Linked DNA regions of Homo sapiens: region 1 is linked to region 2. A link means that fine-mapping ties the variant in region 2 to the expression of a gene that starts in the linked region. Tissue or cell type: thyroid. Region 2 holds a variant in brackets; the other region holds the start of a gene. All regions are shown on one strand. Distances are from middle to middle.

Region 1 (2,613 bases), 440 kb before region 2:
CTCAGTGGAAATTTGGTAACACAGCTTATAAATATTTTAAGGTAAGGTTAAATTGGTTACATGAAGACCCTAGACCTATTTTCTGAGTAGAATACAGGTGGTTTGGTGCAGCAATTTGGTGACTTATTTTGATTGTCCCAAAGCCTTTTTGTTTAGTTCCACGTTCTCTATTACCCTTTGGAAAAGCAACATTTCAGGACGAATGAGGTGTTACTGTAGCATACCTGATCATTTTTATAACACAAAGTAGCATTACAACTGAAAAGATATTCATCAAAAGACTGAACTGCAGTAATTGGAGTGGTAGGATTTTCTTGGAATATCTGAATTTATTACTAATTTTACAGTGAACATACATTACTTTTGTAATCAGAAAAGCTACCTTAATTTAAAAAAAAGAAAAATCAGAAGGATCTGTCTACTCAATCTTACTGACCTAACTCAACAATTTTCATTTGGCATATTTTCTATCATAATTTGATCATCGTTTTCAGAGGTTGTAAATACTGTGTTTATGTTTTTATTTTGATTCATACTTGGCTTGCTGAAAAATACGCTGTAAATATAAAATACTGCAGTAATGCCGACAATCAACATGGTGAAAGGTGACAGTCTTTTTGATTTCTGCTCAACTCATTATTTTATACAATAAGCTCAGACGAATAATACCCAATTTGGATAATGTTACGCTTGACAAAACACTTTACTTCATTTAGTCCTCACAACAACCCTGTGAGGTAGGCACATTCTCGGAGGTAAAATGACGTGGGCAAAGTTCCCTGGCTCGTTTGGGGAAAGGCTCAGCAGCCGGGCCAAGAAAGGTCTTTGGGGGCGCAAGTCTTTGGAGGGCAGGTCTTTGGGGAGCGCTTTGAGTAATATTAGAGCTTTCACTAAACCCTGGCCTATTACGTCCCCTCCCCTGAGATTTACCTTTATATACTCAAGTTCTTTCATGCCAGGAAGGTAGGCTGAAGGCTTCGAAAACCTGCAGCTCATACCCAAAGCTAGCACTGTCTATCCCTGGAGACCCAGCGCCCAAAAGCTCCACTGGGCGCATAGCGCACGGCACGCCTCCTCCCCCGAGCCGCAGACTGAGTAACTGGCCCCGGACTAACCTGACCAGGTCGGTCATGCAGGAGCCCACCACTACCACCGCCGCCACCTCCTCTTGCCACTGCCTCTGGGGTTCCCCAGACGCCGCCATCGCTCAAAGGTGCTGCTGTCCAACCTGGACGGTGACCTCTGCCCTTTGCCCGACCCCGTAACCAGAGACGCCACTCCTGCCCTCCCTAACGACGCGGGCCTTTCAGACGCCTACGCGGGTCGCCCACCTGACTGCCCGAAATCACCCCGCCCACCAAGTGTCCCCTCTTCTTCCTGGAATAGTCTCGGTGCACAGCCTCACGTAACAGGGCCCTCCTGATATGGCGAGACTCCGCGCTCCTCGTCACTCACGGGGCAGGCGCTGAGGAAGGAACTGTCAGGCACCGCGGGGACGCCTTTCCGAGCGCCCGGCTCGGCGCGGCGCGGGGGCGCGCACGCCGCCCAGCTTCGGGGCCGCAGAGGGGGCGGGGCGGGACGTCCGGGGAGTGCGCACGCATCCTGCCCGCGGCGCGCGCGCAGGTCGGTGCGTCTGTCGGGGGCGCGCTCGGGTACCTGTACCCCACGTAGTCGCCGGTTACCGATCGGACTAAGTTCCAGGTACCTGGACTGGGGCTGGTGCGGGGAGGTTGGATCCCGAGTCGCACAGGTGGCGTGGAGAACTGTGGTTTAAATATGGCCAGGGGACTCGCCTCCTCTTCCTATGGAGAAGGCCCCCGTTCCAAAGATGCCCTTCTCATCCCCATCACGCTGATTCCCTCAAGAACGAGCCCCCAAGGCCAGAGGCGTCTCTTTCTCCATATCTGGCCCATCCCCTGGTTCCTGTAAACCCCGAGTATTAGTTCCTTGTTGCCTGATGAGGGGAATCATACAGTTTGGAAGAGGGGAGAGTGTCCCTTTTTAAGACGTCCCCTAGAGTGGGGTGGTCATTCTTCGGGTCTGAGCTAACTTGTTTTTCTCGAATGTTGCCCCTTGGGGGAAATTGCTTCCCCAGTGTAACTTCCCTCGTGCGCTGTATGACGTCGACGTGACGCAGCAGGATGCCACCCCTTTCCGTTCCATGACGTCAGCAGGGCACATGTTTCCGTGTTTGTCATCTCATTTTAATTGCAAGAACCTGGATGGTGCTTTAGACGTCTTTGTAATCCCCAGGCCTCTCATCAAAGGACCTTTTGTAACTTTATTTTGGGGTAGCAGACCCTTGCAAAAATTGTAATTTTGCATTTTCCTTTTGCAATACGTCAAAATCAGGAAATACAAATTGCAGTAGTAGTATTCAGGGGACTCTGACCACCGTAAATATTTGTATATCTGGGGTGTATTATAGTGCTGCCATGCGTAAGAGTTACTACCGGTGGTGACTCCCTGTCCATGTACCCGGTTCACTGCACCAAAGGACCAGTGTTTTTGGCTAAGTGACTTCTGATTTTGGAGTCATTGTGTTCCACTCCCCACCCCCCGCCCTTTTTTTTTAGAGAAGTCACACCTCCTCATGGTTGAAATAGATTTTAA
Region 2 (2,500 bases):
GCAAACATCATGAGGCTCATCTTACAATTACCCAAAGAAAAGCATGTTTGAATTCCAGAATTCAAGTCCTGTTTTGGAAGAAGGCAACTGTTAGGCTCTTGCCAAATAAAAAGTTCCAAGTGAAGGAGGCTAACAGCAACAAGACCACAGGGTCTCGTCCACGGGGCCGGGCTCTAGTGGCACTGGGGTTGGAGTGACATTGGCAGGTATCTTAACTAAACTTGCTAAGCTTCTGTTTTCTCTCCTGCAAAATGGGGAGCATGACCCCTGCCACACCCAGTAGTGTTGTGAGCACCACCTTTGCAAAGCTTAACTGCCTTAGGTGCTCTCTCCCCGCTGCCAGTCCCCAACCTCTTTGGGTTGTATATTCTGTGTTTTGTTTTCATTTATTTAAAGCTATATTGATTCAGTTTGTCAGACGTCTATTTTATGGATTTTTATCCTTTTGAAAAGATCTATTGAATCAATAAAGCATTGTAATTCCAGTAGGAAAGAACCCTTTAGATGAGACTTCGTTGAACAAAGTTTCCTACTGGCCTCAACCCCAAGGCCTCTGAGCATTTCCCTGATAGCTCCCTGTCTTAACTTTCTTCAGTCTCCTGATTTCCCCTTCTCTAGAACCCAACCATTATGTCATTTTCCAGGCATTACCCCTGATAACTTATGCTTCCTGAGCTAGAGGGCAGAGGGGTGGCCGAGAGGAACAGGCCTTCATGTCCCCCGACAAAACTGTCTATGGCACTTTTTGCTCGGGGCTCTGCAGCGTTCACTAACCCTACCCCATTTGTATAAAACTATGCAGATGGAAACGATCCAATAATAACCCAACTACTCCCACCACCTTTGCAGCATTACCACCTCCTACTGAAACTTGCATTTGTGTGGGGCCCTGGGCTTGGTACTTGATACACATTTCCATTCTCCTCACAACCTCCTTGAAAAGAGGTGCTAGTCAATAAAAAATGATAAAGGGGCTATCACCACTGACCCCACAGAAATACAAACAACCATCAGAGAATACTATATAAACACCTCTGTGCAAATAAGCTAGAAAATCTAGATGAAATGGATAAATTCCTGGACACATACACCCTCCCAAG[A/G]CTGAACCAGAAAGAAGTTGAATCCCTGAATAGACCAATAACAAGTTCTGAAATTGAGGCAGTAATAAATAGCCTACCAACCAAAAAAAGCCCAGGACCAGATGAATTTACAGCTGAATTCTACCAGAGGTACAAAGAGGATCTGGTACCGTTTCTTCTGAAACTATTCCAAACAATTGAAAAGGAGGGACTTCTCCCTAACTCACTTTATGAGACCAGCATTATCCTGATACCAAAACCTGGCAGAGATACAACAAAAAAAGAAAATGTCAGGCCAATACTCCTGATGAACATCAGTGTAAAAATCCTCAATAAAATACTGGCAGACTGAATCCAGCAGCACATCAAAAAGCTTATCCACCACAATCAAGTCAGCTTCATCCCCAGGATGCAAGGCTGGTTCAACATATGCAAATCAGTAAATGTAATTCATCACATAAACAGAAGTAAAGACAAAAACCACATGATTATCTCAATAGATGCAGAAAAGGCCTTCAATAAAATTCAACATTCCTTCATGTTAAAAACTCTCAATAAACTAGGTATTGGTGGAACATACCTCAAAATAATAAGAGCCATTTATGACAAACCCACAGCCAATATCATACCGAACAGGCAAAAGCTGGAAGCATTCCCCTTGAAAACCAGCACAAGACAAGGATGCCCTCTCTCACCACTCCTATTCAACATAGTATTGGAAGTTCTGGCCAGAGAAATAAGGCAAGAGAAAGAAATAAAGGGTATTCAATAGGAAGAGAGTTAATCAAATGGTCTGTGTTTGCAGATGCCATGATCTTATATCTAGAAAACCCCATTGTCTCAGCCCAAAAGCTTCTTAAGCTGACAAGCAACTTCAGCAAAGTCTCAGGATACAAAATCAATGTGCAAAAATCACAGGCATTCTTATACACCAACAGTAGACAAGCAGAGAGCCAAATCATGAATGAACTCCCATTCACAGTTGCTACAAAGAGAATGAAATACCTAGGAATACAACTTACAAGGTATGTGAAGGACCTCTTCAAGGAGAACTACAAACCACTGCTCAAGGAAGTCAGAGAGGACACAAACAAATGGAAAAACATTCCAAGCTCATGGATAGGAAGAATTAGTATCATGAAAATAGCCATACTTCCCAAAGCAATTTATAGATTCAATGCTTTTCCCATTAAACTACCATGGACATTCTTCACAGAATTTTTTTAAAAATTCTACATTAAAATTCATGTGGAACTAAAAAAGAGCCCGTATAGCCAAGACAATCCTAAGCAAAAAGAACAAAGTTGGAGGCATCACGTGACTTCAGACTTTACTACAGTAACCAAAACGGCATGGTACTGGTACAAAAACAGACACAAACCAGTGGAACAGGATAGACATCTCAGAAATAAGGCCGCACA

Direction of the effects. Alleles are on the strand shown, and positions count from the first base shown. SD is a standard deviation of normalised expression in the study named.
As copies of G replace A in region 2, the expression in thyroid of the gene that starts at base 1,246 in region 1 goes up (large effect, 1.0 SD a copy in GTEx).

The links. PIP is the estimated chance that this variant, and not a neighbour inherited with it, causes the effect.
Region 1: it holds the start of RBKS, and the variant in region 2 is fine-mapped to the expression of RBKS in thyroid (GTEx, PIP 0.98).

The regions. Positions count from the first base shown.
Region 1 is chr2:27,889,142-27,891,754 of GRCh38, forward strand. It overlaps RBKS (ribokinase), which reads right to left and starts at 1,246. Exons shown (of 8, transcript NM_022128.3): 1 at 1,116-1,246. The coding sequence starts at 1,204. It overlaps BABAM2 (BRISC and BRCA1 A complex member 2), which reads left to right and starts at 1,588. Exons shown (of 12, transcript NM_199191.3): 1 at 1,588-1,701. It overlaps BABAM2-AS1 (BABAM2 antisense RNA 1), which reads right to left and starts at 1,973. Exons shown (of 1, transcript NR_028308.1): 1 at 315-1,973. RefSeq lists a silencer at 1,434-1,713.
Region 2 is chr2:28,328,522-28,331,021 of GRCh38, forward strand. All of the region lies in intron 11 of BABAM2 (BRISC and BRCA1 A complex member 2), which reads left to right. Among named protein-coding and RNA genes, the nearest start is that of BABAM2-AS2, 19 kb to the left of the region's middle. The variant A/G (reference allele first, on the strand shown) is at 1,101.